Linked DNA regions of Homo sapiens. The protein of the gene in region 1 interacts with the protein of each later gene in a biochemical or structural test. Each region holds a gene or a part of one and is shown on either strand. Other genes may lie near its edges. The genes, in order: GIPC2, SHROOM3, PDZRN3, SLC22A12, ASIC3, LPXN and REELD1.

Region 1 (3,500 bases):
GGGAGACCTCAAGAAACTTACAGTCATGGCAGAAGGTGAAGGGGAAGCAAGGCACGTCTTACATGGTGGCAGGAGAGAGTGAGTGTGCAGGAGAAACTGTCGCTTTTGAAACCATGAGATCTTGTGAGAACTCCCTCACTATCACGAGAACAGCCTGGGGGAAACCACCTCATGATGCAATCACCTCCCACCAGGTCCCTCCCTTGACACGTGGGGATTGCAATTCAAGATGGGATTTGGGTGGGCACACAGAGCCAAACCATATCAATTCTCCACTTGCATAACCTCATACTTTATTCAATATGTGCTTGCTGAGACAGGCACAGTCTAAGTGCTGGTGATACAAAGAAGAATAAAAACCCTGTTTCTCTTCTAAAAGGAGAGAAGCATGAAAAGAAGCTATTACAACCCAGTGGGATAGGGTTAATGGAAGCAGGTGCAGGATACACAGTGTCACAAAGAAGGGGCTGATCAGCCATTGACAGGGATTGGGGAAAGAAAGGAGGTCAGAAGGCTGGGTGCAGTAGCTCACGCCTGTAATCCCAGAACTTTGGAAGACTGATGTGGGTGGGTTACCTGAGGTCAGGAGTTCGAGACTAGCCTGGCCAATGTGATGAAACCCCATCTCTACTAAAAACATAAAAATTAGCTGGGCATGGTGCTGGGCACCTGTAATCCCAGCTACTTGGGAGGCTGAGGCAGGAGAATCACTTGAGCCCAGGAGGCGGAGGTTGCAGCGAGCCGAGATTATGCCATTGCACTCCAGCCTGGGTGACAGAGTGAGACTCCATCTCAAAAAAAAAAAAAAAAAAAGGGTCAGGAAGTGTTTCTCTCCGGAAGAAATTAGTGAGTGAGTTCAAAATGGGGAAGAAGAGTGTTCTAGGCATGGAACAATAATGGGTTTTGGGGACCTGTAAGCTGTTCATGAGATTGGAGTGTGGGGTGCTGGAAGTACTGGTTAGGTAGGGGTGATGAGGCTAGAGGCATAGGCTGGGGTTAGGATATGAAGGGCCTTGTGGATAATGAGGGAGCCATTTAAGAATTATGAGGGGAGTAACACAATCAGTTTTGTGTTTTAGAAAAATCCCTTGGTTCCAGGGTATGGGTTGTTGAGCAGCTTGGATTTGAGAGGGTGAAGACCAAAGGCAGGGAGACAAAATAGGAAACCTCTGCAAATCAGAAAAGATGAGGACTAAACACTGGCAAACAGAATGTGGATGGAGAAGAGGTGATAGATCCAGATCTGTTCCGTAGCAAATAGGAAATATTAGAATGGTAAAATATTGGTGGCCATTTGGGTATGAGGAGTACTGACACTTGTCACCGTAACTTAAAACGTGCCTGGATAGATATAAAGGTTAATACCTGTTAATTTGCATAGCCTGTTGCTTTATACAGACAATTCAAGATACATTGTAATGAAGGCAAGAGCAATATATTGTCTGTTATTGTTTTTAAGGTTTAGTTCTTGTAAATAAAAATGTGAGAAAGTTGTATTAATATCTTCAAGGAAATAGATTTTTATTTGCTATAAAATGCATGATTTTAATAAAATTTGAGACTACAAAACAACATATATTTATAACAGTATTGAAAGTAACATGAAATTCTTATAATCTAAATAATGAATTCTACATTTGCATGTATAGTTGAGTAGTTAACATCTTTGGGCAATTCCATTTTCAGCTATGATGCCATTTAAAGCCAAGTATTGAAATAAACTGAGCAGAATTTACCAAATATTAAACCAAAAATTTAAAATAATATTTTTACTGAAATGTTTAGTAATCATTTCGGGAAGAACAAAAATGTTTTGGTACCATTAATACATAACACAAAAATGATTTAAAAAGTATTATTTTATCATCTCATTCTTATAAAATTTCCTTTTTTGGTGTATTTTTATAATCTATACAATATATTAATATGGTAATACATGTGTAATTGATAAGCAATACATACAATAAAGTTAAAAATACACAATAAGGGTATTTGTTCAGAAAAGTTTTACTATTGGGATGAGCCATCAAACGTTTGGAGACCCTGGCCTGCACCATAAAGACCAAAGTCCTTTTCATGGTACACAGGACTCCTCAAGATCTAGTCATATTTGTCACTGTGTTCTCCAGCTACATGGGACTTCTGGCATCCCTCTAACATGACTCTGTGACCTTACTTAGACTTTGCCTATCTATTGCATCCTACTTGAAGTGTCCTCTCCTGCTTATCTCCTCTTCATCATTGAAAACACAGTTCTTGGCTGGGCGTGATGGCTCATGCCTGTAATTCCAGCACTTTAGGAGGCTGAGGTGGGCGGATCACTTGAGTCCAGGAATTGGAGACCAGCCTGGCCAACATGGTGAAACCCCGTCTCTACTAAAAAAATACAAAAAATTAGCTGGGCATGGTGGCGCACGCCTGTAATCCCAGCTACTTGGGAGGCAGAGGTTGCAGTGAGCTGAGATCACACCACTGCACTTCAGCCTGGGCAACAGAATGAGACTCTGTCTCAAACAAAACAAAACAAAACAAAGCAAGACAAAAAAACCCCGCCACAGTTCTTAAGACATCCTTCTTTTTCTCTGAGACAGGGTCTTGTCCTGTTGCCGGGTTGGAGGGCAGTGGCAGAATTATGGCTCACTACAGCCTCGTCATCCTGGGCTCAAGTGATCTTCCCACTTTAGCCTCCTGAGTGGCTGGGACTAAAGGTGCATACCACCACACCTGGTTACTTTTAAATTAAATTAATTAATTAGTAGAGATAGAATCTTGCCATGTTGCCCAGGCTTGTCTAGACCTCTCAGGTTCAAGTGATCCTCCTGTTTCAGCCTCCCAAGTGTCTGGGATTACAAGCATGTGCTACCACACCCAGCTAATTATTTTAATTAATTAATTAATTTTTTTTGTAGAGATGGAGTCTCACCATGTTGCCTGGGCTGGTCTTGAACTCCTAGGCTGAAGCAACTCTCCCACCGTGGCCTTCCAAAGTGCTGGGATTACAGGTGTGAGCCACTGTGCTCAGCCAAGTCACCTTCTTTCTAAAGTCTTCCATGACTGTTAGAGATATAAATTTGCTTCCTCCCCTGTGATGCTTCTGTGCCTTTTATATCCTTTAAAAACTGTTACATGTTATTTATTTTCACATCTGTTTCCTCTTCTAGATTGTTAGCTACTTGGGGATTGTGTTCCTGGCTTTTCTTTTTTGAATCCGTAACACTTAGTGCTGACACTAGAAATAAGTATTTACTGTATTGATTTGTATTTAGTTACAGAGCACATTCTAGATCTATTTCCATTAAAATTAGCTGAAATACACAATTATGAACCGGCTCCACATCAGGCTTTCTCTTGTGTATGCCCTGACAATCAAGAGATTTTGTTGTATAATATCTTATTTCTCTCTTTTTTGATAAAGCCTTCTGAAACCAAAGCAAAGGCAATTGAAAAGATTGATGATGTTCTTGAGTTGTACATGGGAATTCGAGATATTGATTTAGGTA
Region 2 (2,525 bases), on another chromosome or scaffold:
ATAATTTATAGAATGAAGTAGGAATCAATGAGCCAGTTTTTTCATTCACAACTTTCTTCTTGCCTAATTTTGATTTTAGAGTTTCAAAATTGGGTGACAGCTGCTTTCATTTCTCAAAGAAAATGAACACAGTCTTGTTTCATTAGCTAAATTGTCAAATCCACACCAAGGAGAGGTTCTAACTCATATGTAGGATAACATTTGTGATGAAGCAACAGGAATCTGATTCCCACTAAATCAGTAAAGTTCCCACTGAAAAGGCCAGTTGATTAATTTCAGTCAGGGCAGAACTTAAAATTACTGGCAATGTGTGATAAAACTGATTCCTTTTGAGGAAAAATAATTAGTGCAATTAAATCTGAATAAGTGCATAACTTGTTTAAAACAGATCTAAAAAAGAGTAAACAGGGAACAAAATCTGTATCACAACCTTGGGGATTATATAAAAGTAGTGGAGACAGTATAAACTTATATAGCTAATAGAATAAATATGACAGGACTTTCAACTTCTGAGGTTATTTTTATTTTTAAATTTAACTTCAATTTCTGTTTATTTAAATTTTAAAAATTATTCAGATTATTAAATTCATGTTAGTCTTATTGTGATCATAACAGTAGGAACTGTACAGATGATTGGTAGTGGCTCTCAAATGTTAAAATACATCAGAATAACATGGGAAACCTGCTGAAATGCAGTTTCCAGCAGACTTGGTTTTGTCATAGCAATTGGTATTTTTAACAAGCATTCCAAGGATTCTGATGCAGATCGTATCCTGACCACACTTTGAGAAACCATTATTTAGTTTCTGAATGAGCTCCCCATTAAGAAATGTGAAGTTTTATTTAAAAATTAATAAGACAACCCTTTCTGATATTAAAATGGTCTTTATCATTTTATCCTATGCATCCCAAAGAGTTAAGGCAGCAGGAAATACTTTGTTCCCGATAATATATTCCTGTGTAGAAAAGCCCCTTCACATTCACTTGACCACTTTTTATACCTTGTAGGAAATGAAGTTATTTCTGGCTGTAGTTATTCCTTTTTCTAATAGTAAGGTGAATAAAATTCATGTTGTTCTAAAAGGAAAATAATAACTCCAACCTAACAATGAAGCCAGCACTACCATGGACAATTAAACTGAAGAGAAGTAAATTTGGAACCACATAAGAATAAAAAGCCAACATTTCCTTGGGTATCCAGAGACCCAGTATCTTAATAAGAGATGCCTGAATAACATACAAGTTTAAAGGTAGAGCTTAAAGCATATATTTACCATTTAAACTCATGAATTATTTTAGATGAGATATTAACAGTGGAGGAATAGGAAAACTGGGATGTCCCAGGTTGTTTCTCCTTTATAGCTCCCTCAAAGGACCTCAGTTAAGCCCACACTCCTCACCTTAAAAGACAGCCACTGATTCTTAGGGGTGGACCCAAACTTGTTAATCTTCTAGTCTGGAAACCAGCTGTGCAAAACAAACCCTAAAATGTTCCCATAGAGCAAAGGAAAAGATGTTTGGTTTCGACAGCATCTGGTCTCATAGAGAAACTCAGGCACTTTCACTGTGGATCCTCCCTTCATTCTTTGGGGTTAAGTGGCCACCGCAAGAAACAAAACAGCATGAGAAATGGCTGAGTCAACCAACATGTAGTGACATGCCCAGGAACTTCTCAAGTGGCCCAGGAAGTGGAGGCCTCCTGATTTTCTCGCAGGACATTGTCCTTTCCTGGAACCTTGCGGGTGGCTGGAGTATCTGCATTTGGAGTATTGCAAGATTATCTCACCTGAGTTCTGACCAGAAGTGTATCTCCAAAATTATCACATCCACAAAGACAATTATTGACTGTGAGCAAACATTCTCAGTGACATCACGCGTATTCTGAAACCCTGACCAACAACATGCTCCTTACTGTTCTCATGGTCTTGGCAAAGGATACTGTTGGGAGAAAGAAGAATGGTTTCTACTGTAAATGAGTTTTTAAAAATAGTGGGAGAAGAATGCAAAATAGGAAAGGGATAAATACATAGATTTCTAGCTAAACGCATTTAAAAGGAAACTTTGAAAATTTGGTTAGTGATTTCTTTAAAGTACAGAGGTCAAGTCCTATTACAATAAATATCACATCCACCTAAAAATTAGATTTCAAAGTCTCACTTGGTGCCTTACCCATTTCACATAACAGAACAAAGTTTCCACATAATGAAAGAATGGACACAATCCTAGGAGTGTCACAAGCTTTCAGATGTTTGTGGCATGCCAAGCAGCATTGCCTGTTACTGTGCTGTGGGAGTCAATTACTTTTATGTCTATAAATTAGAAAAGTGGCTGGGTGAAGTGGCTCATGCCTGTAATCCCAGCACTTCTGGGACCAAAGCGGAAGGATCCCTTGAGCCCAGGAGTTTGAAACCAGCCTGGGCAACATAGCGAGACCCCCGTCTCTATAAAAAATCAAAAAATTAGCCAAGCATAGTGGTGCACACCTGTGGTCCCAGCTACTTGGGAGGCTGAGATGGGAGGATGGC
Region 3 (3,500 bases), on another chromosome or scaffold:
AGTTCAAAAGGCTGAGAATGAAACTGTTCTGCTGTTACCTAGGACCGTGTCTTTTTGAATGTTACCCACAATAATATGTTTGATATCACAAACGTACAGTATGCACTTACATGGTTGAAATGCACATACAAACATGTAGGCATAAGTGCATCTGTGTGTATATGTTTACATATAATGAGTACACACACATTCACTCTGCTAGGAGACTGGAAGCTTATGTTTCCCTAGGACAACATATGCAAAACACAGTCCACAGAACTCACGACATCTTTGGAAACGTCATTAATGCAACCTCAAGGAGCCAAGGCAGTGGGAATCATAACATACTCCATCAGCAGCTTTGAAAGGAGCTTAACAGTCCACGGTGCCAGATGCAAAGCTTCAGCCTCTGATTGTTGGCTGGGGACCCAAACCTTCACGTCCTCAAAGGTCAGCACAGCAATCAATGGGCTCTAGTCTTCCCTCCCAGGCACTTAGTTTTGAAACAACAGATCAGACATGAGTGGCCATTCAAACAAGGGCTGGCTTTCAATTTTCTGGACCCATCAGGCAAATATACTGCCTGCACTTAAAGGGCTTTTAGTACTGAGGATACTGTTGGAAGGTCTGGGCTTTCAAGCATCAACTTAACATTCCCCATTCAGTCCCGACACACGCTCTTGCTGTTGTCTGACCTTGCAGCCAGAACCTGAAGAGGCCTGACCTCTGGACTCTTCTGACATTTCTCAAGTCGCCCCCAGGGGATAAGTCATGTCATGTTAACTAGACCTAAGAGGAAATTACAGGTTTAGCTTCTAAAAGGCCCATCACTGTGACAGGTCAACATTTAAGAGTCAGAAGTAGCCTTAAAGGCTTCATCAATAATGTGAGGCAGTTTGGTCTGTAACGTCAGATAAATGGTCTGGATCATCATACTCAGTGAATCAGCCAGTTGTTCCAGAGGATGGAATGGGTCACTACAGGGTACTGTGGTTCAGAGCTGGGAGTCGGGGTCTGACTGACCTGCCTTTCCATCAGCTCAGTGGAACCTGGTGAGTCTGCAGTTCCTCATCTGTATAAAGGGACAGTCATGAGAAATGAAGGAGATAGATAATAGTTCTTTGCACATGTGCACACTGTGAGTGAATGTGAGACGGATGCCCTGTCCTCTGTCTTTATGCTACCAGCTGCTGCCAAACCTACTCTGTCAAGCCTGGGGAATTAGTCCTGGGTTCCAATGACAGCTAGCCACTAAGACCAAGGGATGAAGGGCAAGCCTTTATCCAGAACTTGACTGAACCATAGGAAACATGTGCTCACTCCAGCTACTGAGTTACTAGTAGGAATCCAACAGGTATTACCCAGTGGATTCTCCTGTAAGAGGTGAAAATGCCCTTTGAAATAATGTATCAAGTCAATGATCTGATCCGAGATGGAGCTGAGATGAGAAAACACAGGGGCGACCCTAACATCAGCTGGAGAGGCTGTGTCCTCAGATGTGCAAAGTCACACATGAAAAGCTTTTTTTTTTTTTTTTTTTTGAGACGGAGTCTCGCTCTGTTGCCCAGGCTGGAGTGCAGTGGCATGATCTCGGCTCACTGCAAGCTCCGCCTCCCGGGTTCACGCCATTCTCCTGCCTCAGCCTCCCGAGTAGCTGGGACTACAGGTGACCGCCACCACACCTGGCTAATTGTTTTTTGTATTTTTAGTAGAGACGGGGTTTCACCGTGTTAACCAGGATGGTCTCAATCTCCTGAACTTGTGATCCACCTGCCTCGGCCTCCCGAAGTGCTGGGATTACAGGTGTGAGCCACCACGCCTGGCCTTGAAAAGCTATGTTAAAAGCTATGTCGAACTGGACACCTTGGGGGCCAGCAGTCTATCACAGAAAGTGTCTTGCTCTTCATTTTTTCCTGAATATTTTACATCACCCACTAAATTAACGGTGATCGCTGGTACCATTTACTGAGTGCTTACCATATGCCCCATGAGCACTTCCCACATATTGTTTCATTTAATCCTTCAATGATAAGAGATTGATACTGTTATCTCCATTTTAATATAGGAAAAATACAGCCCCACAAAACAAAGTAAGTTACCCAAGTTCCACAACTAGAAATCACTTTGAGCATCAGGTTTGTCTGACTTGAAGCCTCTGAAGGACTCTTTATCGCTGGCAGAAATAAGTTGAGAGAAGAGGTGTGTGTAAAGAAATCCATGTGGCGTGCTGAGTTGCAGCTGTTATTTAATTGGTTGATGCAGTACTTAGATGAGGCATGTGCGGGCTTATTACATGGATCCAGGCTTGAAATGAGACCCAAGAAAGCAGAAGGCACAACCTCCAGGGCTCTCTTGACACACACAACTTACTTTTTTGTCTATTTAAAAGAATGATCAACATTCCCTAGTAATAACTGCAGGATCTTCAAATTACCATTTGGGGTGATTACATTTTATTCTGAAACAACTTTTACAACATTTGTAAGTAATTCTGTTCTTAGGATATAATTTGAATAAGTCCGCTCCAGGGTTATAATAAAGTAATTAATATGTCGGAGCGGTTTTGAGCAGGATTCGATTTATTGCCTCTATAAACAATAAAGTTAAACATGGGCAACTTGGAGGAAAACTATAGGGTGCATTAATTTTTTTCACCACATAGAAGAGAAAGAAACCAACTTGGAAATACTTCTTAATGCATTAGGGGTTCAAGATTAGGTTACTTACTCCTCTGGCAAGAGATAGGGATCCAGCACGGGTGGGCTGGGAGAGGACATCTTAGTGAGGGCCATGATATGTTCAAAGGTGATGTCGGTTTGGGTTCCCGTGTCCACCAGCTGAGACTCTGATGGAGGCGTGAACATTTTGGTCCTTGGTGTTCTTCTCAACACCTGCACCACTATGGGCTCCTTGGCTGTCTTGAAAGCTTCCACAGCCTGGTCATGAGTTGCTCTGGATAAGTCTCTGCCGTTGACCTGTGGAAAAATATTTAGGGTGGGACAAGGTTAGAATAAAGCAGAAAACGGAAGGACAAATACATGAATTGCCTGCTTTCATGTGTAAGCAGCTAAAAGAAAGAAGCAGGTGGTGGTGTCAGAGAACTTCAGTTCTCTGTGTTTAGGTTTCCCGAAGAATGCCTGGTGGAAAGAGAGTGAGTTTGGAGGTATTCAGATCTGGCATGCAATAATAAATCTCACAGCGGGAAGGCTTAGCTTCCCCGTGGAATGTCTTTAACACAATTTCATCACTTGCTAATCTTGCCTGTGAAAGAAAAGGCCAGCCTCAGGCTCCGAGCCTTTATCAGGCAATAATAGCTAACTAGAAATTCATTACATTGTTATGTTTTAATAGTGTGTATTTTTCCAGTTTGTGTCAGATGATACCAGTCTTCCCTTCATGGAAGTAATATGAAGTTTCCTCTTAATAATCCTTTCGCTCTTTAAAAAGTCCATTGAAAATATTAAGTAAATGACAGTTCAGGCCATAGCGGCATATGGCAAGTTATTATGGAGAAGGAATTC
Region 4 (3,500 bases), on another chromosome or scaffold:
TGGCTCCTGCAGGTCCTTCAGCCAGACGTGTTGTCCCCTATGAGCAGCCAGGGTGGGGCCACCTGCCCTACACCCACCGGGGCCCTGAGCTCCTTAGGGATTTGCAGAACAGAGGGGAGAAGTGGAGATTCCAGGTGCATATTAGAGATAGAGCTGATGAAGCCTGGTGACCCAGTGGACTTGGTGGGGGGATGGTGAGGGAGAGAGAGGCGTCATGGCCACTGTGACTCTGGTGAGTTCAGGGGCTGCTCCCCACGCTGGGGAAGACTTGGGGAGGAGAGGTCTAAGGAGATGTGTGTGGGGATGAGACACCTATAATGGAACCGTCACGTGGGCAGTTGGAGGTGTAAGGCTGGAGGTCAGTGGGGGAGGCAGGACCAAGTGGAGATTTGGGGTCTGCAGTATTTGGAGGGAGCTGGGGCTGCAGGCAGGGGTGAGGCTGCCTGAGGGAGAGAGTGTGGACTGTGCCCGCCACATAGCAGGTACCACAAGTGATGGTGGCCAGATCATTGTGGGTGACCCTGGGAAGGGCAGTTTGGGCGGAGAAGAGGGAGAAAGCTGACTGGAATGTGTTGTAAGTGACTGGGAGGGAGAAAGCGGGGTCCCATTCTCAGATGTCAATACCCCAGGTTGTTCGTCAAGCCCTAAGCACAGTTTGTGAGGCCACGATGTGTGGGATTCCCTATGAGCTCCACGTGGGCAGAGACCACATATCTGCTCATAGCTGGTGTCAGCCAGCGCCTGGCACATGGTAGGTGCTCAGTAGTTATTTGTTGAATGAATGAAGTAATGAATGAATGAATGGGCACTTCTTCAGCCCTGTGGGAGCACGTCTACCAAGGAAAGGGGGGTGCAGCTCTGTGGCCCTGCATCAGCATGAGAACCAGGAGGGGTGCCTTGGAATTTTTATCACTGACCTTTACCTTCCACTCTCTACCCTCTTGGTGTTGGGAGTCAAGCTGCCATCCCAGAAGGCTCTTGTCGGACACGATTGCCTCCTTGTGGAGCCACTGTATGAGATGTAATTTTCTCCTGCTCTGAGGAGTGGCTGCAAATTGTTACTCCACTCCAAGCTGTTGGGTGGGAGAGATTTGTGGACTCAGCCTTCTTCTTAGTGTGGGTGCGGGCACCTGCTCACCACTGGGCCTCTGCTGTGCTCCTTTCTACAGTGGTCCCAATGACCAAACAACTACTAAGTGCAGGGCCTGTGTATGAATGATCCAGGCTCAGCCCTGCCCTCAAATGGCCTCCGTCCATCCATCTATCCATTCATCCATCCAGTTCATCCAATTAATCCACCTATCCATCCATTCAACCATCCATCCAACCATCCATCCATCCATTCCATCCATCCATCCATCCATTCATCCATCCATCCACCCATCCATCCATCCATCCATTCAACCATCCATTCAACCATCCATTCAGCCATCCATCCATCCATCCATCCATCCATCCATCCATCCATCCATTCCATCCATCCATCCATCCATGCATCCATCCATTCAACTATCCATTCGACCATCCATCCATCCATCCATTCCATCTATTCCAACTATCCATCAATCCATCCATCCATCCCATCCATCCATCAATTCCATTCATCCATCCATTCCATCCATCCATCCATTCAACCATCAAACCATCCATCCATCCATCCATCTATCCATTCCATCTATTCCAACCATCCATCCATTCCATCCATCCATCCATCCATCCATCCATTCCATCTATTCCAACCATCCATCCATTCCATCCATCCATCCATCCATCCATCCATCCATCCATCCATCCATCTTTTCCAACCATCTATCCATTCATCTATTCCAACCATCCATCCATCCATTCCATCCATTCAACTATCCATCCATCCATCCATCCATCCATTCAACCGTCCATCCATCCATCTATTCCAATCATCTATCCATCCATCCATTCATCCATTCCAACCATCCATCCATCCATCTATTCCAACCATCCATCCATCCGTCTATTCCAACCATCCATCCATCCATCCATCTATTCCAACCATCCATCCATCCATCTATTACAACCATCCATCCTTTCATTCCACCCATTCAACCATCCATCCATCTATCCATCCATTCAACCATCCATCCATCCATCCCTCCTTCCATTCCATCCATCCATCCATTCCAACCATCCATCCATCCATCCATTCCAACCATCCATCCATCCATTCATTCCAACCATCCATCCATCCATTCCATCCATCCATCCATCTATTCCAAACATCCATCCATTCCATCCATCCATCATCCATCCATCCATCTATTCCAAACATCCATCCATCCATCCGTCCGTCCATCCATCCATCCATCCATCCATCCATCCATCCATCCATCCATTCAACCATCCATTCAACCATCCATCCATCCATCCATCCATCCATCCATCCATCCATCCAACCATCCATTCAACCATCCATCCATCCATCCATCCATTCCATCCATCCATCCATCCATCCATCCATCCATCCATCCATCTATTCCAAACATCCATCCATCCGTCCATCCATCCATCCATCCATCCATCCAACCATCCATTCAACCATCCATTCAACCATCCATCCATCCATCCATCCATCCATCCATCCATCCATCCTTTCCATCTATCCATCTATCCATCCATCCATCCATCCATCCATCCACCCATCCATCCATCCATCTATTCCAACCATCCATCCATCCATCCATCCATCCATCCATCCACCCATCCATCCATCCATCTATTCCAACCATCCATCCATCCATCCATCCAACCATCCATTCAACAATCCATCCATCCATTCCATCCATCCATCCATTCCATCCATCCATCCATTCCAACCATCCATCCATCCATTCCATCTGTCCATCCATCCGTCCGTCCATCCACCCATCCATCCATCCATTCATCCATCCATCCATTTATTCCAACTATCCATTCATCCATCCATCCATCCATCCATCCAACCGTCCGTCCGTCTGTCCGTCCATCCATCCATCCATCCATCCATCCATCCATCCATCCATCCGTCCATCCATCTATTCCAACCATCCATCCATCTATCCATCCATTCAACCATCCATTCAATTCATCTATACAATCCAATCCATCTATCCACCAACTCACCCATCCACTCATCCAATCCACACATCTGTCAACCCATTTATTTATCTGTCTCTATCTATCTACCTACCTACCTACCTACCTACCTACCTACCTACCTATCTATCTATTTCTACTTACCTAACAATTCATCCATTCAACAAATATTTATTTAGCACCTACTATGTGCCAGGTGCTCGGCAAGGGCCACGCCTGATTTGTTTCAGGGCAGTGCTGACATTTCCTAACCTCCCACACATGCCGGCCCTCTGTGGGGACTGTGGACTCCCCTCTGATGAGTGGATCCTGGTCCCTGTCTTCCAGCAGACAGACACAAGCATTGATTCTGTCAGCCCATGAAGCAGACTGCGGCTGTGCGCTGTGTGTGC
Region 5 (4,126 bases), on another chromosome or scaffold:
GCGCAGCTCACGCGATGTAGGCCTCGCTGCGGTTGAGCTTCCGGGCCAGGAAGCGCGCGGCGGCGCGGCTCGGGATCCGCACCATGGAGAGCTCCTTGGCGTAGCGCGTGCTGGCGCACGGGTTGGGGCAGGCGCACGAGTCCTTGCGAAGCATGGCATCTGCGGGCCACCGGGCCGCGTCAGACGCCCGCGGGCGGAGCGGGGCGGACGGGAGGTGGGGGAGGCTCGCCCTTACCTATGGCCGGGTGGGCACAGTTCTTGTACTGCTGGGGGCTGCACACTGGCACGTCGCCTGCGGGTACCGGGGAGATGGCTTTAGAAGCAGCCTCAGCTCCCTGGGCCCTGCCCGCCATGGGACGAAAACCCCAGCCCCTCACCTGGCATGTACACCATTCGGCAGCCGCACTTCCGAGCCACGTAGCGGGTTTCGCAGGCCAGGCGACACCCCATAAGGGTATAGGGAGGGCTGGGGCTGGGGCTGGGGGAGCCTAGGGGATCAGAGGGCTCTGGCTCATAGTTGGGGTTCAGAGATGCTGAACTGCAATCGCCCCAGGGCGGTGGCAGGAAGCTCAGCTGTGGGGGGACAGGGTTAAGGAGGCTTCCCGGAGAGCGTGAGAGGCCAGCTGGGGAGAGGCCCCTAGACAGGTCTGAGGAGCTGAGGGTTTAGGGTCTGAGGTGGTGTGGGCTTGAAGTAGTAGGTGTGGAGGCACACGGAAGGGTACCTGCTGCTGCTGGCAAGAAACAAAGGTCTGGTAGCCCGGGGACACCCCCAAGCCCAGCTGATCGATGATGGGCGGCTCCTCCTGGCTGTGGATCTGCACTCGGATCCCCACCTCAAACGGGGTCTCCTCTGTCGGGGAGGGACCTGTGAGGCCTGACCTGTGTGGTCAGGTCTCCTGCCCAACCAGACAAGACCTCTCACTGCAGCCCCTCTCCCCAGGACTGGGATGAGCCAGCCCAGCCCCTTTCACAGGTTCTGGGGGAACACCCTGACACCTCCTCTCCTCCTCTCCTTCCCCTAGCCTTTTGCACTCCATCCGTGCCCTCCCCCAGCCTCATTTGTGTGCTCCCTACCATTGTCCCTCCACACAGGTAGATATTCCTCCTGCTGCACGTCCAGCATGATGTCCAGCCCATTGCCCATGCCACCCCTAGTAGTGGTGAGCAGCTCTGCCCCATCAGCGCCAGAGTTAAATGTGTAGCACTTTCCCATCCGGGTGAAGATCTGGGGCGGGCAGACAGGGTGATGGCCATCTCCCCCAGGCAGGCACATGGTCATGGGACCTCTCCCCACCTCATGGTATGTTTGCGTCTCTTCTTTGAATACTGAAGCCCGCATCTCAATGCCCCCAGCCCCACGCTCCAGTGGGCACATGTTGCAGGACGCTCTTGGGAGCCCATCAACTCAGCTCCTCCACCCCGCCAATCCCCACCAAAGCCCAGGGCACAGCCTACAGGTTTTTCTGTGTTTCTCTGGGAACTGCAGGAAAAGGAAATGGGCCCCTGTGGCTGTCCTCCGGGGCTGGCAGTATGTTGAAAAGGCAGAGGGAAAGCAAGCCCCCCCCACCTCCTGGCAGAGATAGGGGTCTTCTGCCCCAGAATGGTCCCACCATGGAGGACCCCCAGCCCCAGGAGCAGGGCCTCCCTGGGCCAGACCTCAGGCCTAGGGCCAGCCGGGGTCAGTGTGGCCTCACATGCTCCCCTCGGGCTGGGAGACAGAGAAAGCCCCAAGGAGGACAGCTTCCTGGGCTGCACGGAGTGGCACTGGGGGGTGGGGAGTCCATGGCTGGTAGGAAGGAAGAGGTCCCCTGGCTTTGGGGGAGCCTGTGCTGGCTAGGGAATTGTGGGTGCTGGGCAGGGACTGGTCGGCTCTCTGGGTCCCTGGCAGGATAGGTAGGGAGGTCAGCTCACCGTGGTGAAGTTCTCAGGCCCACAAGGTTGGCCACGGAAGCGACAGTCCAGCAGCATGTCATCCAGGGAGTGCCCAGCACGGGCATAGAGTTGCGCCATGTCAAAGGTGGGACTGGGCATGAAGCCGGGCGGTGCAGGGGGCCGGCCCAGGGCGCGCAGGAAGGCGGCGTGCTCTGCGGGATCCAGGCCCAGCAGCGCAGACCCAGCCCAGTGCAGGTCGTTGGGCGTTAGGCGCGAGCGGCGCAGTGGGTTGATGTTGCACAGGGTGACAGCCGGGAAGATGAGCCGGTGGCTTTCTCGCTCATCCAGGGCAGTCTGGTGGTGGAACTCCCTGTAGTAGCGCACCCTCTCAGCCACCTGGTAGAGGAAGGTGGCCACTGACAGGACCACGGCCGCTGCCCACATCCCCCGGCGCAGGCTCAGGCTGCCTGGCCCGAAGACGTGGCCCAGCCCGTGCATCGAGCAGTTGCTGGCGAACACGCGGATGTCCGAGGCTGGCCGCCGGGCCTCCTCTGGGCCTGAGGTGGGCTTCATGGCCAGAACCCAGGAGCGGAACCAGCTACAGAGGCTTGGAAGAAGCGAGAGAGAGTCAGTCAGGGGGCTAAGGAGGCTAAGATAGGATTCAGGAGGCCAGGCAAGGAGAGGAGAAGAGAGGGTGGGAGACAGCCAAGGTTGGAAGGCAGGGAGGCACTAGCCTGGCAGGATTGGAGGAGGTGATCTGGCCGGTCAGGTCCCACTGTTCCTTCCCGAGGAACAGGCGGTGGCTCCACTGGGCTAGGCACTGGGCTGGGGACTCCGCAGCAGACCAGGTGGGACGTAGCTGACCGTGGCAGGCAGGGGCTGCGGAGCGGTGCTGAGCCGGCGGTGCTGAGCCGGCGCTGCTGCAGAGGATTGGGTTTCAGCAGTAGGGGGGAAAGGGGGCCGACAGAGCAGTCTGGGGGGTAGGAGAGGTCCCTAGGGCCCCAGGCTGAGCCATTAGTGCAGCATGGAGGGGGGCATGGCTGTCCAAGACGAGAGGCGCCAGGAGGAAACCGCAGTAATCCTAGGGAGAGCTTGAGAAAAGCCCAGAGGTAGATTGGGCCTGGAGATGCCTTGGGGCCCCCTAGGCTCCCAGTTGCAACCCCTGTACACTGGCCGCGAGGGTCAGTCGCTGACCCCTGGCCTAGCTCCTCTCTCCTTTTGCCTCTGCGGCCTTCCCTCTAGCTTCACCCAGGATCTGTTCCTTCACGAATACCAGAGCTGGCTCTTGGCCAAGCTGGGAAATGGTTGGAAGGCTGGCATCAGCAGATCTCTTCTTTCTGTGCCCCTAGCATCTCAGCCTACACTGGATGGCCAGGGCACTCTTCATGTCCCACTTCCAGGGCCCGTCTGTTTCCTAAGTGTCCCTCTCTCCCTAGGGAGTCAAAGCCTACCTCCCCACACTCAGGCCTCTGAGGATGTTGGCCTCTACAATGGTTATGGGCTCACCTGCCACCCCAGGTAGAACATGGGTGCCCCACCTGCCACCCTCCCGGGTACCACGGGTACCCCACCTGCCATCTCAGGCACAACATGGGTATTCTGTGATTTCCCATCTTACGCTGCTATATCCAGGACCTGGAAAACCTACATTTTTCCAAAGGGCTGCATACCACCCATTATGTGCACATACCATAGTTTATTTAATGACTCCCCCACTGATGGGCACTGGGGGTGTCCAGTCTTTCCATTACAAACAATGTTGCCGTATCATCACACAGATGTGAACTCCCAGGACTTTGGTGGGCTTTTTTTGACCATGAGTGGTAGAAACATGGTTCCACCAGCCAAACGTGTGCACACACCATGCTGCAACTGCTGGGCCACCTGTCTGTCCTCCCAACAGGACACAAGCTTCATGGGGGCAGGGACTGTCCTCATTCCCCATCGTGGGCTCAATGGCACATGACAGGTGCTTGATTAATAAACACTTTGGAAGGACTGAGTACCATGGTTACAGCACAGGCGTACCAGCTCCCCAGAGCCACAGTGCCATGCTTTGCAAGTATTTACTGTAGATGATCCCACTCACACTCTCAAAACAGGCATTCAGCATCAAGCACAGCTAGGCTCCCACTCTCCACTGTGGAGCGAAGGCCGAGGCGAGGTTAGGAAGACGGCGCGGCTCCTGCGGTCTAGCTCTTCCAGCTGGACTAGCCAAGGGGTTTCACTGCTTCTCTAGGGGGCGGGTGAAGGG
Region 6 (3,500 bases), on another chromosome or scaffold:
CTTACTATCTGCCTCTTTACAGAACAAGTTTGCAAATCTCTGGTGCAGAAAGTTTAGATAATATATATGATGATGATTTCATATTCATATAATTGTAAGTAAATTATAAATAAATAAAACTTTGGACCCAATAAACAGAATACAGATTCTATTCAAGTAGCTGCATAAACATTAGTAAAATTAACTATGTATGAAGATACAAAGTAAAGCTCAATAAATTTTTAAAAGTACATCATATAGACCATATTCTTAGATTGGAGTGAATAGAAGTACAAATTAATCATAAAAACTATCCACTTAAGAAAAAACAAAGCACTTCTAAATAATTCTTGGGATAAAAAAATTAAACTGAATTTTCAAACCAGTTAGAAATAGCAATGAAAACACACACACACACACACTCACACACATGCACACACACACACACACACACACGCCTTTGGGAGTTGAAAGCTAAATGTTATTGAGAAGAAAATATATAAATAGACTTAAGTGTGATATTAAAAAGTGAGAAAGATCAGAAATAAATAAAACTTCCAAGTCAAGAGTCTCAGAAAAATCTAAAATAATTCAACAGAAGGAATAAATGCATAAATTAGTGAAACAGAAAACAAGAAATAAAACAAAAACTGACAGTTTTTGGGGGATCATTGTATAAAATTCCCAAATACATAGAAAAATATGGAACATTACCTAATTCATTCTATAAATAGCACAGAAACTTTTTAAAATCAAAGAAAAAACGATGTGCATGTGTGAAGAGAGAAGGTTAAATAAAATCAGTTGAAATGTGTTTTTTTTAAAAAACATAAAAAATTTTAACAAGTCATGGCTAGGTGGTGTTTATACTGGTTATCCAAAAATAGTTTGAAATTCAAAATTAGGAAAAAGATTAATATAATTCATTAACAAATAGGAGAAAAGCTTTATAAACACAATGATATGTGCTGAAAAAGCCGTGGAAGACATTTAACAACCATTCCTGTTGTTGAATATCAAGAAAAATAAGAAAAAGTCTATAAACTGATAAAATGTTTCCATAAGAAATATATAGCAAGCCTCATAATTATTAAGCAGATATCTAATTAAGAGATAAGTTGGACATAGATCCTATTATCACTGGCAATCTTCAACATTATTCTAGAATACATTATCAAACACATTTAAAAGTAAAATAAGAGAATTATATATTTGAAAAAAAGGCAGCACATCCTCAGTCTTTCTTTTAAAATAGATGGTATAATAATTTCCCAGGAAAATGTAAGATAAATGACTGAACAACCATTGGAATGAATAAAAAAGATCAGGGTGGTGATTAGATACAAGAATGAAATGAAACAGTCTCTTTCTTATTGATCATCAATAAGCAGTTTGAAAATCCAATGCGAAAAAAAGAACCTGTTCACAATTCTAACAAAAGTTGTAAAATATCAAATAATATATTTAACAAGAAATGTGTAAGAATTCTATGAAGAAAAACCATTGGCAGACATAAAGGAAGATCCACATATCCAATTAAACAATGAGCAAAGGACCTGAATAGATATTTTTCCAAAGAAGAAATAAAAATGGCCAAAAGGTATATGAAAAGGTATTCAACACCATTAATCATCAGGGAAATGCAAATCAAACTATTATGAGATACCACTCACAAACAGATGGCTATTCTCAAAAAGTCAAAAGATGGCAAATGTTGGCCAGGGTATGGAGAAAAAAGAACCTTTATACACTGTTGGTGGGAATGTAGATTGTTACAGCCATTACAGAAAATAATATGCAGGTTTCTAAAGGAATTAAAAATAGAAATACCACATGACACAGGAATCCTTCTTCTGGGCATACACAAAATAAATGGAATTACCACTTCGTAAAGATCTCTGCACTCGTATGTTCATTGCCACAATATTCACAATTCACAATAGCCAAGAGGTGGAAACAACTTAAGTGTCCATCAATGGATGGACACCAATGGAATAAAGAAATTGTGAAATATGCACACATACACAACAGAATATTAGTGAGCCTTAAAAAAAGGAGATTCTGCTATTTGTCATAGCATTGATGAATTGGAAGGACATTATACCAAGTTAAATAAGAAAGAAACATATTGCATGATCTCACTTATAGGTGGAATCCTCTTTTGTCATTTAAAAAGGTCAAATATGTAGATACACTGGTGATGAGAGGCAGGAAAGGGGGTGAAAATGGGGACATGTAGGTTAGAGAATATGAAGTAGCAGATATGTAAGATGAACAAGCCTAGAGATCTAATGTACAACATAAGAACTATCGGTAATGAAATTGTATCGTATTTAGGATTCCTGTTGCAAGAGTAAATTTTGGCTGTTCTTGCCACAAAAACAAACAAACAAAAATGTGTAACTGTGTGAGATAATAAATATGTTAATTTGCCTCACTATAGTAACCATTTTACTAACTATTCATAACCCATAACATAATATTGTACACCTTAAATATGCACAATAAAATTTATTTTTAGAAAAGAAAGCCTATATAAATGAAGATAAATATTATGTCAGTTTCCCCTAAACTGTAAATTCAATGTAATTCAAATAAAAATTCTGATATAATTATTCAAGCTAATTAATAAGATGATGTTAACATTTATGGGATAGAACACTCAAGACAATTTTGGAAAAACAAAATAGGAGGGGTGTGTGGTGTCTCACACCTGTGGTCCCAGCACTTTGGGAGGTCCAGGTAAGAGAATCACTTGGGACCTGGAGTTGCGAACAACCTGGGAAACATGAGAGAGACCTGGTCTCTATAAAAATTAAAAGTTGTAAAGAAAAAAAAAAACAGGAGGGAAGATTTGTCTTGATAGATGTGGTGTCTTATAGAGTAACAATAATTAAATTTGTATGATGTTGGTAAAGAAGATAGGGCTGGGTGCGATCGTTCATACCTGTGATCCCTTTGGGAAGCTGAGGCAGGAGGACTGCTTGAACCCAGGAGTTTAAGACCAGCCTGGGCAACATAGGGAGACCCTGTCTCTACAAAAATTTAAAAATCAGCCAGATGTGGTAGCACACATCTGTCGTCTCAGCTACTCAGGAGGCTGGGGCAGGAGGATCACTTTGGCCCAGGAGGCCAAGGCTGCAGTGAGTTGTGATCACACTACTGCATGCCAGCCTGGACAACAGAAGCAGAATGAGACCCTGTCAAAAAAAAAAAAAAAAAAAAAAAAGAGAAGAAAGGAAAGGAAGAAGAAAAAGAAAAACAAATAGGTCAAAGGAGTAGATTAGAAAACCCAGAAACAGGCTCCTGCACCTAAAAGAACTTCCTATATGAGCAATGGGGCATTTCAAATCATCCAAAACAGACTATTCGACTCAAAGAATAACAACCTATTTGGTACAAAATAAATATGGATCCCCAACACACCAAATACATGAATAAATTTGAGACAAATTAAAGATAGATATCAATATTTTTAAATGTAAAGATAATAGAAAAATGAAGAATATATTTTACAATTT
Region 7 (4,038 bases), on another chromosome or scaffold:
TGGGGTGAGAGTAAAAAAAAAAAGGAGAGGAGGGACACTTTTGTCTCTAAGACTGGGATAGGAGCAGAGTGGAGTGGAGAAGAGGTTAGCCACTCTCCTGCTAGGGGCAGAGATCTGTGTCAGGACCCAGTGGAGGGGGTGGGAAGAACCCAGGCCACAGCCTTGCTGAAGACCTGAGCCCCTTTTTGGCATAGAAGCCTTCCAACTAACAGTCTTCAAGTGACCACATGAGCTCTGAAAACTATCATAACAGCAGCCATGGAAGGAATGTATCCTAATTTTCTAGACCTCCCAGAATTTCTCATGACTCAGTGGGAGATTGAGATTGCCTCCAATCCTAGTGGGATAGAAGCTTAGAGAAACCAAATTGAATTTGTTTGCTTTTGTTCTGTGTGTGGGGAATACTGGTATCCTAGGCCAAGGAAGCCCAATTTCCCTTGGTGTTTATAGGATAGATAGTCTCATTTACACTTGCAACAAAAGGCTTAGCAACCTGGTCCCTAAGCCAGTGCCTTGCCTATTCAGTCACTCATAGCTTTAGTTTTTTCTGAGTGGAGACAAGGCCTAACAGTCAGAACATTGCTCTCTCTGCAGCCCCCTACTCCACATCACCCAGGACTATCAATCCTAGGATTCTCTCTTGGACGCCTTGCATTCAAACAGCCACCAAATCCTACCTCCACCTGATCTCCTGATCTCCCAAATCCATTCCTCTCTCTTTTTCTTCATTGTTAATGTTGCAAGCTTCTAGGTGATGCTGGTGTTGCACTCTAGGGACCACACATTGAGGAACACTGATCTATAGGCTCTCTGGTATTATCAGGTGTCTCAGCAGATTCTTAGATGAATGAAAATGTGAACTCCAGCTTTAGTGCAATTGATACGGGAGGTGCCTATGCCACGTGTTATTTTTTTGTACCAAACGTTGCTCTTGGGCTAACGTATCAATTCTATTTCACCAAGAGTAACTTCAGTCCACACTGACTCAAGAAGCCAAGAATGCTGAGATGCATTTCATTCAAACATTCTCCCCTTTGCAGGGAGATCAAGATGGAGGCATCCAGCTTCTGCCAAGGATGTCAGTGCCAGTCCTGTGCAAAACCAGTTCCGGTTCTTTCTAGTTCTTCACGCAGGCTTGAACAATGATGTGACTGTAAACCGTGTGTGTGTGTGTGTGTGTGTGTGTGTGTGTATGTGTGTGCTAATACGATTTAGGTTGGATTTGGACACTGAGGAACAGTTCCTGGAGATGCTGAGGATTAGTGGTAGCAGCTGTTATTCTCCCCATTAGAGGAAAAACTGAAAGGAGAAGAAAATACTTATGTTTAAGGGATGTGTTTGCAACTCTGCGGGAGGAAGCCATTCTATCAAGCCTGAAGAAAACTGTGTTCCTAGGTAAGTGGATGTTTTTATTTATTTATTTTTGTAGAGACAAGGTCTCCCTGTGATGCGCAGGCTGGTTTTGAACTTCTGGCTTCAAGTGATCTTCCTGCCTCGGCCTCCCAAAGTGCTGGGATTACGGGTGTGAGCCACCATGCTCAGCTCCAAGTGGATAGTTTTCAGGGTTCAGGTAGACAAGATGCTAGTGGGAAAGAAGACACAGTGAAACCTAAGGCAGGAGGGTGGGAGGTGGGGCTGTGGCCGTAGTCTGTGAGTCCAGGCACTCACTCCCCTTCCCTTGTAGGCAACTGTGTCTGATCTGCCTTTGGAAAGACCACTTGCCATCAGCAAGGACTTGAGGAGCATTTTCATTTCATTTCTTTCTTTTCTTTTAAGAGACAGGGTCTTGCTCTGTACCCAGGCTGGAGTGTAGTGATGTGATCATAACTCACTGCAGCCTCGACCTCCTGGATTCAAGTGATCCTCCTGCCTCAGCCTCCTGAGCAACTGGAACTATAGGTGCGCACCACCATGCCCAGCATTCAAGGGGCATTTTGTATGTGGCCCTTATGAAAGAAAATGAGAAGAACCCTGAGCCCCCTTGACTGAGAATGTGCTTTTACACAGTTCATCTTCATTATCTCCTAATGTGTCTGAGAAGCTGTAGCCATGGTTCCTTGTAGTATGGAGATGTGTGACTTTGGTGCTTCATAGAAAACAAACTTAGAAAAGAAAGGCATTGTCTGAAGGACTCTTATGTCTAAGAAATTTGAGGTATAGATCATATTCCTGTCTTCTTTTAGCTTGTGAATGTAAAAGGTGGTGTTGTGTGAAGAGACAATGGGAGTGGAGGACACTTGATTATTTGGTTTATGGATTATTTCCTTAGTCTATTGTTCTGATAGCTAGTTTTACTACATTTTCAGGATTTTATTTTCACCTTTTAAAACCAGCTGACTACAGGGGAGGGCATTTTTTTTTTTTTTTTTTTGCCTTGCATTGTTCCTTAGGTCAAAAAATTAGCCAAACTTCTAAAATGCCTGTGTGCAGGACTATAAAAAAAAAAACAGAACTTTTTTTTTTTTTTTTGAGATAGAGTCTCGCTCTTTTGCCCAGGCTGGAGTGCAATGGCATGATCTCAGCTCACTGCAACCTTGGTCTCCCAGGTTCAAGCAATTCTCCTGCCTCAGCCTCCCGAGTAGCTGGGACTATAGGCACATGCCACCACACCCAGCTAATTTTTTGTATTTTAGTAAAGACAGGGTTTCACCGTATTGCCCAGGCTGGTCTTGAACTCCTGTGCTCACGCAATCCACCTGCCTCGGCCTCCCAAAGTGCTAGGATTACAGGCGTGAGCCACCGCACCTGGCCTAAAACAGAACTGTTAAAAAATGCCTGTGATAATCCTAAATATTTATGTAGGCAGATTTTCATCTGCCTTGTTTGCTATCTCTCATTTTATTTTTGTCATCTTCTTTTACATTGCCAAATTTTAATTCTTCCTCTTGATGGGAATTAGAGGTAGTAAACAAAAATAAAATTTACTCTATAAATGCTATTTTATTCAATCATTGTATTCTATTCCTGAGCCAAAATTGTTATCAGTATGTTTAAGAAGTTATAGAATAAATTGAGTATTTCTTTCTCTGCTCATCTTCTTTACTAAAAGTAGTGAAATAGCTAAAAACAGCCAAAGAAAGGGCAAAGAGATATCAAAGCATTGCCAGCTTAACAGTCACTTCTAAATAATTGATAGTTGGTAGATGTTTTGTAGCACTTAACTTGGTAATTTTCAATTGCAACAGAGATAAGATGCTCAGCCAAGCCATCCCATGCCATGCTGCCTGACCATGGTGGTGTATTGAGTGTCTACTTCAGATAATGTATCAGAGGCCACACCGCCTTTGGGTACCAGTCAGCTTGCAAGGAGCTCACGCTAGGATACAAACATTTTCTGGTTTTATTTCTTTGACTCAATAATTAAAGCCTCTCTTTTGAACAACAACAAAAAAAGCAGTCTGGTCTTATGAGAAAATTACAAGAACAGAAGTTTTTAAAAAGGTGTTTGGAAATGAAACACTTCCTATAGCCTGGCATTTCCTTTTGATCTTGGCCTTGAACATTAGCAATCCTGGGAGGCTGCACTAAAAGCATCTCAGGTACAGAGGCAGTGTGGGGTTCAGGTTAGTCACATCCCGAGAAGACTTTATGTCGTTTTCCTAAATAACGTCTGGACTGAAGCTGCTGTTTGTCATGATACAGGAGAGGGCAGGATGAGGATGCAGGCTGCCCTCGTGGGCTGGGCTTGTACCACCCTCTGCCTGGCTTCCTGCTCATCTGCCTTTTCCCATGGTGCCAGCACGGTGGCCTGTGATGACATGCAGCCCAAGCACATCCAAGCCCAGCCTCAGCACCAGGACAGCCACCACATCACCATCCACACCCACAGGACTTCCTATGCACCAGGTGACAAGATTCCAGGTATGTACCAGAGAGGCTTAGAGAGACTCCGAGGAGCCCCAGAGCCCCCATGGACCTTCCAGTTTGTGTTTGTCCCAGTCAGAAGCTTCCTGGACTAAATTTGGCTTAATCCCTTTTTTTTGTTTTTTGTAGAGATGGAGTCTCACTGTGTTGCCCTGGCTGGTCTGAAACTCCTGG

The links.
Region 2: the proteins of GIPC2 (region 1) and SHROOM3 interact in a test that uses a peptide from one of them, tested with the Homo sapiens proteins (one large-scale study listed by IntAct).
Region 3: the proteins of GIPC2 (region 1) and PDZRN3 interact in a test that uses a peptide from one of them, tested with the Homo sapiens proteins (one large-scale study listed by IntAct).
Region 4: the proteins of GIPC2 (region 1) and SLC22A12 interact in a test that uses a peptide from one of them, tested with the Homo sapiens proteins (one large-scale study listed by IntAct).
Region 5: the proteins of GIPC2 (region 1) and ASIC3 interact in a test that uses a peptide from one of them, tested with the Homo sapiens proteins (one large-scale study listed by IntAct).
Region 6: the proteins of GIPC2 (region 1) and LPXN interact in a test that uses a peptide from one of them, tested with the Homo sapiens proteins (one large-scale study listed by IntAct).
Region 7: the proteins of GIPC2 (region 1) and REELD1 interact in a test that uses a peptide from one of them, tested with the Homo sapiens proteins (one large-scale study listed by IntAct).

What each region holds. Positions count from the first base shown.
Region 1 is NC_000001.11:78,122,466-78,125,965, forward strand, and holds part of GIPC2 (PDZ domain-containing protein GIPC2), read left to right. Parts: intron 1-3,415; coding exon 3,416-3,497; intron 3,498-3,500.
Region 2 is NC_000004.12:76,781,229-76,783,753, reverse strand, and holds the end of SHROOM3 (protein Shroom3), read right to left. Parts: 3' UTR 501-2,525; downstream 1-500. UniProt on the Homo sapiens protein: Controls cell shape changes in the neuroepithelium during neural tube closure. Induces apical constriction in epithelial cells by promoting the apical accumulation of F-actin and myosin II, and probably by bundling stress fibers.
Region 3 is NC_000003.12:73,401,442-73,404,941, forward strand, and holds part of PDZRN3 (E3 ubiquitin-protein ligase PDZRN3), read right to left. Parts: intron 2,955-3,500; coding exon 2,707-2,954; intron 1-2,706. UniProt on the Homo sapiens protein: E3 ubiquitin-protein ligase. Plays an important role in regulating the surface level of MUSK on myotubes. Mediates the ubiquitination of MUSK, promoting its endocytosis and lysosomal degradation. Might contribute to terminal myogenic differentiation.
Region 4 is NC_000011.10:64,594,220-64,597,719, reverse strand, and holds part of SLC22A12 (solute carrier family 22 member 12), read right to left. Parts: intron 1-3,500. UniProt on the Homo sapiens protein: Electroneutral antiporter that translocates urate across the apical membrane of proximal tubular cells in exchange for monovalent organic or inorganic anions. Involved in renal reabsorption of urate and helps maintaining blood levels of uric acid.
Region 5 is NC_000007.14:151,047,205-151,051,330, reverse strand, and holds the start of ASIC3 (acid-sensing ion channel 3), read right to left. Parts: upstream 2,801-4,126; 5' UTR 2,446-2,800; coding exon 1,912-2,445; intron 1,226-1,911; coding exon 1,075-1,225; intron 851-1,074; coding exon 723-850; intron 574-722; coding exon 378-573; intron 293-377; coding exon 236-292; intron 160-235; coding exon 12-159; intron 1-11. UniProt on the Homo sapiens protein: Forms pH-gated heterotrimeric sodium channels that act as postsynaptic excitatory receptors in the nervous system. Upon extracellular acidification, these channels generate a biphasic current with a fast inactivating and a slow sustained phase.
Region 6 is NC_000011.10:58,555,357-58,558,856, forward strand, and holds part of LPXN (leupaxin), read right to left. Parts: intron 1-3,500. UniProt on the Homo sapiens protein: Transcriptional coactivator for androgen receptor (AR) and serum response factor (SRF). Contributes to the regulation of cell adhesion, spreading and cell migration and acts as a negative regulator in integrin-mediated cell adhesion events.
Region 7 is NC_000004.12:146,213,300-146,217,337, forward strand, and holds the start of REELD1 (reelin domain-containing protein 1 precursor), read left to right. Parts: upstream 1-1,238; 5' UTR 1,239-1,395; intron 1,396-1,776; 5' UTR 1,777-1,899; intron 1,900-3,642; 5' UTR 3,643-3,653; coding exon 3,654-3,861; intron 3,862-4,038.